3 linked regions of the Homo sapiens genome follow. The protein of the gene in region 2 purifies or fractionates together with the protein of the main gene of each other region. This does not show direct contact. Each region holds a gene or a part of one and is shown on either strand. Other genes may lie near its edges.

What was found.
Region 1: the proteins of MPC1 (region 2) and RAB35 purify together in Homo sapiens (affinity purification with mass spectrometry; one large-scale study listed by BioGRID and IntAct). This does not show direct contact.
Region 3: the proteins of MPC1 (region 2) and ASS1 purify together in Homo sapiens (affinity purification with mass spectrometry; one large-scale study listed by BioGRID and IntAct). This does not show direct contact.

What each region holds. Positions count from the first base shown.
Region 1 is NC_000012.12:120,103,244-120,107,543, reverse strand, and holds part of RAB35 (ras-related protein Rab-35), read left to right. Parts: intron 1-3,594; coding exon 3,595-3,718; intron 3,719-4,300. UniProt on the Homo sapiens protein: The small GTPases Rab are key regulators of intracellular membrane trafficking, from the formation of transport vesicles to their fusion with membranes.
Region 2 is NC_000006.12:166,374,927-166,379,940, reverse strand, and holds part of MPC1 (mitochondrial pyruvate carrier 1), read left to right. Parts: intron 1-5,014. UniProt on the Homo sapiens protein: Mediates the uptake of pyruvate into mitochondria.
Region 3 is NC_000009.12:130,475,171-130,479,470, reverse strand, and holds part of ASS1 (argininosuccinate synthase), read right to left. Parts: intron 2,601-4,300; coding exon 2,510-2,600; intron 1-2,509. UniProt on the Homo sapiens protein: One of the enzymes of the urea cycle, the metabolic pathway transforming neurotoxic amonia produced by protein catabolism into inocuous urea in the liver of ureotelic animals.

The DNA of each region.
Region 1 (4,300 bases), on a different chromosome or scaffold from region 2:
ACTGGCTTACAGGGTGTATGCACTGAGAATTTTCATAGGTACTGCCAACCTGCTTTTCAAAGAAGCTGGAGTCATTTAATCCAGTCCCACTGAAGGGTGGAAAGTGCCCCTTGTCAACCCTGGTCAGTGCTGGATCTTAGTAGCTGTCTTCATTCTTGCTGAGCTGATAGGCAAAAAGGGCTAACTTGTTTACATTTGTATTTCCCTAATCACTGGTAAGATGGAACACATTTTTGTTTGTTAAATACATCAGGTTCAGCCGGGTGCGGTGGCTCACACCTGTAATCCCAGCACTTTGGGAGGCCGAGGCGGGTGGATCATGAGGTCAGGAGTTCGAGACCAGCCTGACCAACATGGTGAAACCCCGTCTCTACTAAAAATACAAAAATTAGCTGGGCGTGGTGGTGCATACCTATAATCCTAGCGACTGGGGAGGCTGAGGCAGGAGAGTTGCTTGAATCCGGGAGAGGGAGGTTGCAGTGAGCTGAGATGGCACCACTGCACTCCAGCCTGAACGACAGAGCGAGACTCCATCTCAAAAAACAACAAAAAAAATCAGGTTCATTACAGATGCTTTGGGTGGGGTTGACATCTCTGATTATCTTGTGGAGAATTCCCTCTGACATGGCTGGGCTGCCTTTAGAAAGTGATTCCGTTGGCCAGGCGCGGTGGCTCACGCCTGTAATCCTAGCACTTTGGGAGGCCGAGGCGCGTGGATCATGAGGTCAGGAGATTGAGACCATCCTGGCCAATATGGTGAAACTCTGTCTCTACTAAAAATAAAAAAATGAGTTGGGTGTGGCGGCATGTGCCTGTAATCCCGGCTACTCAGGAGGCTGAGGCAGGAGAATCGCTTGAACCAGGGAGTTGGTTGCAGTGAGCCGAGATCTTGTCACAGCACTCCAGCCTGGCGACAGAGTGAGACTCCGTCTCAAAAAAAAAAAAAAAAAAAGAAAAAGAAAGTGATTCCATAGCTGATGTCTCTTGGTGGAGAAGTGGGTTTTGCCCCCTTTGTTTCCTTGACACTGTCCCTGCAATCTCACTAGTGGTGTGGTGTTAGAAAGAGATGGCTGCTCTGTGTGACCTTAGCCAGTTCATTTGTAAAATAGAAGCCTCAGTTCATGTGTAAAGTAGAAATCATAATGGTCCTTTCCCCATGGGGTTGTTATAGGATGACCTGAGATAGTGCAGGTTGCAGTGCCTGGGACTAAGTAATTGCTCAATAAATACCAGCTATTTGTTGCGACTGGCTGTTAACCTTCTGTTTAAGAATGATAGCTGATTAACAGCCTCTAATTATGCTAAAAAATGTTCCTCTTCCTCCTTAATGGCCTCCTCCCTCCCCATCCCAATCTGTGTTCAGTGCTTGGAGGGCTTGTTGTTGCAATCTCTTCCCACCTTTCCATTTCTACGACCAGCATCTCAGTTTACTGTTGGTTCTACCTGGAAGCATTACGGCAACCCCTACCCACCCTGAACCGCTCATGTGTGTGTCTGGTAGGGTCTTTTCTCTGTTTAAAAACCTCAGTGGCCCCTCTCACCTGCACAGAGTTTACAGTAAGATTTCTTCACTTGGACACTGTTGACCCTTTGGGCCCTGTGATTTTTTTTTTTTTTTTTTTTTTTTGAGACGGAGTCTCGCTCTGTCGCCCAGGCTGGAGTGCGGTGGTGTGATCTTGGCTCACTGCAAGCTCCGCCTCCCGGGTTCACGCCATTCTCCTGCCTCCCAAGTAGCTGGGACCACAGGTGCCCGCCACCACGCCTGGCTAATTTTTTGTATTTTTAGTAGAGACGGGGTTTTACCATGTGAGCCAGGATGGTCTTGATCTCCTGACCTCGTGATCTGCCCACCTCGGCCTCCCAGAGTGCTGGGATTACAGGCGTGAGCCAGCGCGCCGGGTCTGGGCCCTGTGATTTTTGTTGTGGGGCTATCCTGCGTGTCGAAGGATGTTGAGCAGCATCCCTGGCCTCCACCCACTAAATGCCAGCAACACTTCCCTCCCCCTGCTGTGACAACCAAAAATGCCTCCAGACATTGCTGAGTGTCCTTTGGAGGGACAGTCATCCCGGCTGAGAACCACTGCGCTCGTAGTCTGTTTTCAGTTCGCCTTTCTGGCTTCCTCCTACCCCCTGGTCATTCTTTTGTTCTTTGGCTTGCTTGGTTCGTTAGCCACCAGCTGTTTCTGGGGAGCCTAACTGTGCTAGGCAGTGGGCTGCACTCCTTGGCGTTCCCCTGGCTGGAAGACCCCGGGTGCTGGCCGCTTTTCTGAATGTGTTCTGGTTGCGTATCATCCTCAGCTATTTGCTTTTGAGTGGGATGTCGTTCCCCTACCTAATCTCAACCTTTGAAGTCTTACCTGTTCTTTCAAGCTAGGCCCAGATGTGACGTCCTCCCTGAAGCCTGCCTTGTTCCCCACCCCACCTTGGAATTTGACCTTTCCTACGCCCTTGCCACATTTCACATAATTGTGTGTGTGTGTGGTGTCTCCTGCACTGTTATAGCATAAGCCCCAAATGGAGTGAGAAGCTGTGCTCTTCCTAGTGTCAGGCTTTGGAAAGCTGGACTGGGCAATTACACCGGCTAGAAATTCTCCTCAAATCCATCTTTCAGGCCGGGCACGGTGGCTTGTGCCTGTAATCCCAGCACTTTGGGAGGCTGAGGCAGGCGGATCACTTGAGGTCAGGAGTTTGAGACCAGCCTGGGCAACATGGTGAAACCCCGTCTGTACTAAAAACACAAAAATTAGCCGGGCGTGGTGGCGCATGCCTGTAGTCCCAGCTACTCAGGAGGCTGAGGTGGGAGGATTATCAGACCCTGGGGGAAGGTCAAGGGTGCAATCCCACTTCACTCCAGCCTGGGCGACAGAATGAGACGCTGTCCCCCCCCCACCAAAAAAAATCCATTTTTCCCACAGATGCTGCAAGAGAGCTATTTAAAATGCAGCAGCTCATGCCACTGATTAAAACCCTTTGGTGCCTCCCCAGCACACACGAGAGAAAGTCCACGTTCTTGGAAGTGGCACACAGGTCCAAGATCTGGCCTCGCCACTTTCTGCCTGCCTTGGGCGGCAGGCTTGACCTCATGTGACCGCCCCCACTCACGGCTGTTTTTGCTACTGTCTCCCCTGCCTGGAGCAGTGGCTTTCAGACTGCAGCTCATGACCTATTTGTGTGTTTGGAAGTGAATTTTGAGGGCCCTAAATTTTTTTTGACTTGAATAGAAAAGAAAAACCCAGAGTGCCCGTAGGTCTACCATTCTCAGACATAGCTGGTGTGTCCCCATCTAGCCACTCTAAAGGAGCCTGTCCCACTCCCGCCAGTCCCATCCCGTGTTATTTCCTATGTGTCACTTTTCACTCTCGGAAATTGTCCTCTTTGTTTGTTTGCTTGCATCCTGTCTCCCTCCTTCACTTGTGTGTGGAGGGGCCTTGTGAACAAGGATGTTCAGGGCTGTGTCCCTGGGACCTAGAATGTACCAGGCACATGTAATGAGTCGGGAGGGTGGGGGAGCCTGGGGGTGTGTTGTGTGCAGCGTGGGGCTCAGGGCCTGGGAAGATACCGCGCTGGGCCTCGTTAACTGCCCTGTGTGTGCAGGCAGCTACATCACCACGATCGGAGTGGATTTCAAGATCCGGACCGTGGAGATCAACGGGGAGAAGGTGAAGCTGCAGATCTGGGACACAGCGGGGCAGGAGCGCTTCCGCACCATCACCTCCACGTGAGTCCACACGCCCACTCCCACCCAACCCGCGCCACTGACCTGTGGACACAGTTGAGCGACCGGTGCCTGGTCATGGTGGAAATGTCACTGGTGGGTCCCTGAGGCTGTCGGGAAGTGAGCCTGTTGTTGGCTGTAGTAGGTGGCGTTTGGCTGCACCCTTCCTGGTCCTGAAGATGTGAGGGGGGTGCTGTGGGGGAGTCGCTGAGCACCCTGGCTGGAGTCTGGCCGGACAGTGGCCATGTTCTATCTCCTTGGAGAGTCAGCCGACCCTCCGGCCCACTGTGCCGTCACCTTACAGAGAGAGCAGAATAGCATTTGCCTCGCTAGGGGGTTGCGAAGTGCCTTGCCCACCCAGGACTTAGTCGCTGACAATTCCTCTTGGTAGGTGTCAGTTATGGCAGCTGGAGTTGGCCTGTGCAGGCTCCCGTCACCTGCACTGATGCCTTGGAAGTGACGCTGTCTAGAGACGAACACGGTGCATGTCAGCAGGCCCTTCCCTACCCTTAAAGCTGTTCCTGGGAAATCCGGCCGCCCACCGGTTGCCCACCTTTGTGGCTGAGCTGCAGGCCGGGGGGAAGC
Region 2 (5,014 bases):
ATTTTAGTGTTTCCTGCCCTAGAAAGAGAAACATTTCTTCCTAGAACATATCAGAGGAAAGTACTTCCTATTTGTTCTTCCAAGCTTTACGCTTACAGCCCGGCTTTTCTTTAGCAAAGGAGAATAAAATATAAAGCAGAAAACGTCATTGTATCTCTTTTCTTCTAATCAGAAACAAGGTTCCATCCCTTCCTCTTTTTACTTCATCAGTTGCCTGTTGTACACACTTTGCATCCTCTGCATTCTTTTTGTAGCCTACTGAAGGGGTCTAGAGGTTTTCTCAACTAAAGCTGTTCTAGAATTTTAAAAATTAATAACATAATTGAGTTTTTCAGCATAAATTTAAAATCATATTTTACACAGATTATAAATTTATTTCAATCATGTTTTATGAATCAAGTTGAACATTCTTACTAAACTGAATTTCCAAGTGTATTTATTTATTTAGAGACAGGGTATTACTCTGTCACCCAGGCTGGAGTGCAATGGCATGATCATAGCTCACTGTAACCTCCCACTCCTGGGCTTGAGTGAGCCTCCTGCCTCAGCCTCCCGAGTAGCTAGGGCTACAGGTGTGCACAATCATACCTGGCTAGTTTTTTGTTTTTTCTTAGAGATGGGACCTTGCTATGTTGCCCAGGCTGTCCTTGAACTCCCAGTGTCAAGCAGTCCTCCCATCTTGGCCTCCCAAAGCTCTGGGATTATAGGCATGAACCACTGTGCCCAGCCCATCCACATGTATTTTAAATGATTTTTTTTTATTTCACTGAAAGAGGTTATGAAACAGGCTCTCACTTAGGACACCTAAGAACCAAAGATAATGTGTGGACTTTGATTGGGCCTGGTGTGAAAAAACAGCTGGAAAAGGCATTACTGGGATAACGGAACACTTAAATAGGATCTCAGTATTAAATAATATTAAATAATTATTGACAATTGTTAATTGTGATAATAATACCGTTAAACCTAGGTGATGAGTTTGAATGATGGATTTGAAGCCCAGCTCTTGCTTTCCAGCTTTGTGAGCTTGGGCAAATTGTTTAGCTTTTGTGCTTTCGTAGCTGTTTAATGACATAGTATAGCGCTTGACAAAAGTAAGTGTTCAATTTATTTTTTATTGTAACTAATATTGCATGTTTAATCCCCAGGATTTCTGGTACTCTCTTTTTGGTACTTTCTTCCATCTCTTGTTACTTACCTTGATTAGGATCTTGAATCAAGAACTTCCTGGGTCTCTATTCCAATACCTTTTTCTTAAGAAACTATTCCCTCACCTTTCTTATTGACAGAATAGAAAAAGAGAGCTCTTCTTTGCTTTTCCTCTTCTCTCATTCTCCTTCCTGGATTTCTGGTTAAGAAGAATAAATTAGAATAAGCAAAACAGTTTTGAGGTAGGACATATATTTTAATGATTAACTCAATCAAGGTCTGTGCAGCTTTATTCTAGCGACTTATTCCTCTTCTCAAGTTTGTATATTACAGTAAAGGTGAATGGATACACACACACACACACACACACACATGTATTTGTATATGTGTGCAGAGGATGTTTTCTTAAGAAGAACCTAGATCATAGAGTGCTTTAAAATCAGTTAATCACTTAGTATGCTTATGAATCTGAAGTTAGTGGGATGTTTGCATTGAATATTCTCAAGTTGATCAGGTATTCTAAATTAATTTTAACTTCTGAGTCTCCAGGAAAGCTTTCAGAATTTATACTTACTACCCAGGTGAGAAGTTGCAGTAAAATAAAAGTGAATCTTTCCCAAACTTGTGGAATATTAGAGTTGGAACAGGCCTTAGAAATTCCAGTGCTTCATTTGCCACATGAGAAGGCTGATATCTGAACCAAACAGATAACTTCAGAACCTCTGGATACCAAACTTGTGAAGCTAAAACAGAAATGTCAACTTGGGATTTAAAGGAAAATAGTAATGCATAGAAATGGTTTTGAAAAGAAGGTTTTAGATATTTTTGTGCTCCATGTTTTCCTGCATATGTCTCCCTTTTCTCTGCCAAACTGCTTTTCACACCCGGTCCTTGGACTCTTTGAGCACTTCCCTGCCATATAATTGACTTTCAGAAATTGAATGAAGCTGGAAATGTTGAAGCAGGACTGGCCATAAGAATCTCTTAATATCTGGATAGTCCAGTCACAAAGATCTTTACTGTCATTCAGCTGACTTTTGGCTCGCTAAATATAGCTGAATATCACAAATTCTAATTGTCAAAACCCTCCCTCATTTTAATTTGAACTAGAAAACTAGACAAAATTTGGTAAGAATAAATTTCAGCAAACTGTAGAATTATGATCTAAAATATCTCAAAATTTTATCCCATTTTACTTTGAATAATGTTAGAAATATACTATGCTAGGCTGTCAGTTGGATCCTTTTAGTACTACATAAGTAAGTTATAAATTACTTAAATTGCTCTCAGTACTTTCAGAGAAAGCTAACATTACCATAATTTTGGAAAAATTAGACTGACCTAAAAGCAGCTCCTCTGCTCCTTTTCAAATCTCCTCCTGGTTCAGCCTGCCTGCCTCCACTTCTGCCTCCACCATGTCCATCAGGGTGACCCAGCAGCCCTACAAGGTGTTCAACTCTGGCCCCTGGGCCTTCAGCAGCTCCTCCTACATGAGCAGGCCCAGTGCCCACATCAGCTCCTTGATTGTCTCCCGAGTGGGCAGCAGCAGCACCAGCTTCCAGGGTGGCCTGGGTGCCGGCATGGGTCTGCCACTGCACTCCAGCCTGGCTAACAGAGCGAGACTGTCTCAAAAAAAAAAAAAAAGAATAAATAATAATAATAGTAATTATAACTGATATGCCAGGAAAGGAGGGAAAATGGAATCATATAAAATGCTCATTTAAAACCATAAAAGGCAGAAAAAGAATGGAAGGCAAAAAAAGAACAAAGAACAAGGACAACAAATAGAAAACAGTAACAAATATGGTAAATAGTAATACAACTATATCAATAATCACTTTGAATATCAGTAGACTAAAAGTACCAATTAAAAGACATATTGTACAAGTGGATCAAAAAATAAGACTCAATATACATTGTCTACAAGAAACCCACTTTAAGTGTAAATACACATATAGATTAAAAGTAAATAGGTAGAGATAGGTGTACCATGTTAACATTAATCAAGAAAAGGCGTTGGTAGCTATAGATGGAGCATACTTCAGAGCAAGGAAAATTACCAGGGATAAAGAGAGACATTACATATGATAATGGGATCAATGCTCCAAAAAGACAAATGCAATGGTTAATTTTAGGTGTCAACTTTACTGGGTTAACAGATACCCAGATAGATGGTAAAACATTATTTCTGGGCATGTTTATGCAGGTATTTCTGGAAGAGATTGGCATTTGAATCAGTAGACTGAGTAAAGAAGATGTGCCCTCACCCGTGTAAGTGGGCATCATTAAATCTGTTGAGGGCCCCAGTAGAACAGAAAGGTAGAGAAGAGACAATTTGCTCTCTCTTCTGGAGCTTGGACTTCCATTTTCTTCTGCCATCAGACATCAGAACACTAGGTTCTTGGGCTTTTGGACTCTAGGATTTACACCAGTGGTCCTTCAGGTTCTCAGGGCCTTTAGCCTCGGACTGAGTTACACCATTGGCTCCCCTAGTTCTCAGGCCTTTGGACTCAGACTGAGTTACAGCACTGGCTTTACTGATTCTCCAGCTTGTGAAACTTATTACTTCTATAACAGCATAAGCCAATTTCCATTAAAAATTATATATATATACACACACACACACACACACACACGTATGTGTATATGTATCTATAGCTATACATCTTCTATTAGTTCTGTCTCTCTGGAGAGCCTTAATACAGGTAACAATCTTTAATGTGTATGCACCATTACAGCATTAAAACACATGAGGCAAAAACTGATAGAATTGCAAGAAAAAATAGATGAATCCACTAATATAATTGGAGATTTCACCCCTCCATCATAAATAGACCCGGCAGGTAGAAAATCAGTACGGACATAATTTAACTCAACAAAACAATGAATCAACTGGATATGATGAACATCAGTAGACTGCTACATGTAACAGCAGCAGAATACACATTCTTCTCAAGCTCACATGGAACACTCACCAAGATAAATTATATTCTGGCGAATAGAACACACCTTAACCAATTTAAAAGACTAGAAATCATATGGTGTGTGCTTTGGAATTCAACTAGAAGTCACTAACGAAAGCTGGAAAATCCCCGATACTTGGAGATTAAACAGCACACTTCTAAATAACTCTGGGTCAAAGAAGAAATCTCAAGATAAATTTTTTAATATTTTGAACTAAATAAAAGTGCAAACACAACTTATCAGAATTTGTGGGATACAGTTAAAGCAGTGATTAGAGAGAATTTTTATAGCATTGGATGCATGTATTAGAAAACGAGAAGGTTCTAAAATCAATCATCTAAGCCTCCACCTTACAAAACTAAAAAAAAAAAAAAAAAGCAAATTAGAATGAAAATAAGCAGAAGAAGGGAAATACAGTAGCTCTCCACCCCCCTTATCCACAGTTTGCTTTCTGCAGTTTCGGTTACTTGTGGCCAACTAAGGTCTGAAAATATTAAGTGGAAAGTTTCAGGAACAACCAATTCATAAATTGTAAATTTTGTGTCATTCTGAGTAGCATGATGAAATCTCATGCCATCCTACTTTGTCCTTGTTGAAACATGAACCATCCCTTCATCCACCATCTGTATGCTGTAGATGCTACCTACTTGTTAGTCACTTAGTCATCCCACCTAATCACTTAGCCATTGTTGTGGTATTGCAGTGCTTCTGTTCAAGTAACCCACATTTTATTTAATGATGGCCCCAAAGTACAAGACTAGTGATGCTGGTACTTTGAATATGCCAAAGAGAAGCCATAAAGTACTTTTTTTAAGTGAATAGGTGAAAGTTAAAATCCCAGCACGTTATTCTGTGGATATCAACACACAGATTTTGGAGTTTAAATGGAGACGGCGGTAAA
Region 3 (4,300 bases), on a different chromosome or scaffold from region 2:
TTTGCCCCTTTTGCATTTAGGGGCTGTGAAATTGGAACCAGGCCCTGAACTAATTGAATTTCACGCTCCACCATTGTCTTACGCCGGGAGCACCTTCTGTCCCACCAGTCACCCGGGGGCCGCCTGGCCGAGGTGTGGCTGGGCTCAAGCACACACATACTCGCTCACACACACACACACACACACACAGCCCCCTGCCACGTCTGTCAGGCGGACCCCGCGCCCCGACCCTGTACCCCAGACCCACACGCAGCCATCTGATTGATGGGGGTGACACGGTGCCCGCTCCAGCAGGCGAGGTGTCGGCAGCGTCCCTGAATCCGAGGAGCTGGGTCCGGGGTGGCAGGAGGGAAGGGGTTGGGTGGGGGCAGTGGGTGGGTTCGGGGTTGACTTTGAATAGCAAGGGGCACTTTCTCGAGCGGTGTGAAATGAGCAATAAATGTATTGGGGCTAACAAGAGAGCTGAAACAGTGACAAAGAAAAGCTGTTCAAAGTTGGCGGCTAATCCCCCACCCATCTGCCCGGCTCATTACCATGGAGCGAGCCATCGGGTGCCAATCAGGCCTCAATAGCGGCTTTCGAGGCTTTATTAGCCAGGCGCCGCTTGGAGGGGCTTCACTCAAGGCGCTGTCAGCCTCGCCATTCTTAACCCCCATTTCCAGGGGTTTTATAACTTGGTTGTAAATTGCTATTAAATGTAAGTCTGCCCAATAATGAACCTTAAGCCCCTCTCACCACCCCCCGCCTCTCCTCTCTCCCTTTCTCTCCCTCCCCGGTCCTATTATCGGCCTTCGCTGGGGCCTTAGATGGGGCCTGCCCGGGAGAAGAGGTGACATTGTTGGTGCTGCTGCTGGAGAAAGCCTCTTAGCCTTTAAAATAGTTAATAATTAGATTAAAACTTCAAATAAATTAACTAGAGAGTGAATGGGCACTAGCCAGGGGAGGGTTCCTCCGGTCTTTTTTTCTTCTTCCAGACAGTCCCCAAATCATGACAATAGGTCACGTTTCTTCTCCAGCTCAGCCTGCGGAGCTGCCCTGGTCCTCGGGCAGGGCTGCCAGAGCCTGGTGCCCAGGACCCTCCGCAGCCTGCCACCCGCCTCCCACCCTCACGGCTCTCCAGGCTCCTGGGAGCCCTGTGCAGGGAGCCAGGAGGTGCTGCTGGGGCCACTCCCACCATCTTCTCAGAGATGATCCTAAAGGGAGGCTCTGTGCCTGCAAACAGGCCTGGGGGCCCGGCTGCCTTTGGGGTCCTCTTTGGCCCCCCAGTAGGTTGGGACAGATGAAGGGGAGCAAGGAAGACAGTCGCTGGCTTGGCCAAGCTCTTGGGAAAGGCCCAGAAGAGGCAGATTATTAAAGCACTTAGCCTCCGACACCCCATTCCACATACCATGCCGGGCACCTGTGAGCATCATGCCTGTGGTCCGTTTTTTGATGAGTGCACCCAAGGCCCAGCATGGTGAAGCTGGCTGTCAAGGTCACACCAGCAAGGGGGAGAGGGGGATCTGCAGCTCTGCCTCCCCACCGGCCTGAGGCTTCCCCACCCTATCCTCCTTTCTGTGGTAGCCGGGGTAAGAGCCGAGCGCCAGAGCCGGGCCAGGCCTCTCCACGAGCCTCTCTCCCTCTCATCCCAGCTCCAGTGTGGGCAGCCACTTTGTGGACGAATGGGCCAGCCCCCCGCCTGGTCCTTGGGTGCCCCTGTGCCCAGCACCACCTCCTCCAGGAAGCCTCCCTGATCACTCCAGCCTCCTGAAAAGGTACCCCTTCAGGCCCTCTGAGCCCGCCCTCTGAGCCCTCCCTCTGAGCCCAGGCGGGCATGCCTCGCTTCTCCATCCTTCCTCCAGGCCAAGAGATGCCCTCTCCCAAGCTCAGGCACCCAGGCACTCAGGCCAGGTCAGCAAACGCTTCTTGTTGACAGCAGTGAGAAGGAGGGAGCGATCAGGACAGCCTCCACTGCCGAGGGGAGCAAGAGTGGCCGCAGCTTTGAACGTGGGGTCAGCAGGGTGAGGCCCAGAGCGGCTCAATGAAGACTGGCGAAGGCTTTCCATGTGGGGTCCCAGGGGTCCATGAGGCCAGCTCGCCAACACTCACCGTTTACTGAGCACCTTCCGGGGTCAGGGCCCAGGGCTGGACGCTCCCTTGCAGGCCTCATTCTACCCCAGGAAAACAGCAGGCACTCTTTCATCCTCAGATACAGCTGAGGAAACTGAGGCCCAGGAAAGTTGAGTGGCTGTTCAGGGACTAGAGCGCTCTCATTCCAGACCTGGTGCCCATGAACCCGAGTGATGGGTAGCCGAGGGCATGTTCCTCCCAAGCCTAGAGGCATCCATGGTCCATGGGTTGTACTGTCCAGGGAGGTGGGCTGTGCGTTACCTTGAAGCCCCTGCCTGAACTCTAGCTTCCAGGAATGCAGGGCGGGGGTAAAGAGGGCCTAGGTTCCCAGGCAGGGAGGGGAAAGGAGCCAGGGCCCCAAAAGTCAACCCCCTTCGAGTCCCAACAGGTGGGCACATACCTTTTTTGAACTCGATCTCGAGAATGTCAGGGGTGTTGGGGGCTTTGGCTGGGTCCTGGGTCTTCGTGTAGAGACCTGGAGGCGCTTGGTTCTGAAAAAAGACAGAAAGTGGTGGGCAGATGACATACCAGTCCCTGGACACCCTACAGCCCACCTCCCGCGGGGATCTGCACCCCTCTCCTCTGTCCATTTCCCCACCAGCTGGTGGGGTCCGGCAGATCCCCCGGTCCCCAGCCCTCAGCCTAGCACCAGCCTCGCTTGCCAGAGGCCTGGGAAACAAAGGGCTGGAGAAATCAGACAATTTTTCCCCTCAACTTGATCTCATCTTTTTCTTCGACGCCCCCACAGCTGGAGGTAGAATAGCTGGAGAGGAACAAGTCAGGCAGGAAAAAGTGTGACTTTGGAGGAGCAAGGCGGCGTTCCGAGGGCTTCCCAGGAGCGGCACGCACGCTCTCGCCGGCTCGGGATTGGGGTTTATTCTGCACTGACCGCAAAGCTAATGACTGCCTGTGACCCCAGCAGGTGCTCTGGCAAGCCGAGCCGTCCCCAGGGTCCCCAAGGTTAATACTCACAGGGAGAAAAGAGAAGAGCAAAGCAAAAACCCATTTGAAAACACATCAACCTTTATGTATATTTTTTCTTGGGCGTGTTGGAAAATGGGCCTCTCGTCTGATGCAGTGGTGGAGGGGCTGCGTGTTGCCTGAAACTCTCGAAATTCCCTCCCACCTTCGGAGGCCCCAGCTCCCCCAGGCCGTGGCTTGGACATTTGCCACTGTGGGGACTGGGGCCTCTTGGGCCTGACTGCTCAGGTCCCTCCTGTGGGCATCCTGTGCCTGGGGTCCTTGTTCACCTGCTGACATCCAGGAACTGCTGTCTCATCTTTGCTTTAAAAACCTTGCAGACGGCTGGGCACAGTGGCTCACACCTGTAATCCTAGCACTTTGGGAGGCTGAGGTGGGTGGACTGCCTGAGCTCAGGAGTTCGACACCAGCCTGGGCAACGCGGTGAAACCCCATCTCTACTAAAATACAAAAGAAATTATCCGGGTATGGCGGCATGCGCCTGTAGTCCCAGCTACTCAGGAGGCTGAGGCAGGAGAATTGCTTGAACCTGGGAGGCGGAGGTTGCAGTGAGCCGAGATTGCACCACTGCACTCCAGCCTGGGTGAGAGAGCAAGATTCCGTCCCCCACCCCCCCACCAAAAAAAAAAAAAAAAAAAACACCTTGCACACATTCACGTATTGCTTCCCATCTGCAGTCTGAGTTCTCAGCAGCCCCATTTGGTAAGAAGGTCAAGCGCTCTTACCCCATCAACAGATGAAGAAATTGAGGCTGAGCGGGAGGGACTGGAGCTACAACTGTGAGTTCTGTGCAGGCAGAGACCACGTGGGACTTGTTCCCTGGCACTCAGGACAGGAGCCCCGCGAGGTCCTCGCCAAATACACATTGTATTTTAGAGTGATGGGCATTACCCCGTGCCAGGATCAAGAGCTCAGGCTGGGGGGCCTTGGGGAAGCTTCACTTCCTCCAGCCTCAGTTTCCTCATCTGTAAAATGGGGAAAATGATACCTGCCCTTGGCCATCTTACAATTTAAGTAGTATATATATATTTTTTAATTGGACATGAAAACACACAGGAAAATGTCAGGGAAGGCCTGGTACAAACGGGAACATGCTCTGCAGGTGGAAAGGGCAGCTGAAATTCACTCTGGGGGTACATGCTCGGCCCAGCCTCCTCCTCATTCTGCATGGGATGGGGCTACATAAGTGCCTTGGAAGCTCACCTGTGGT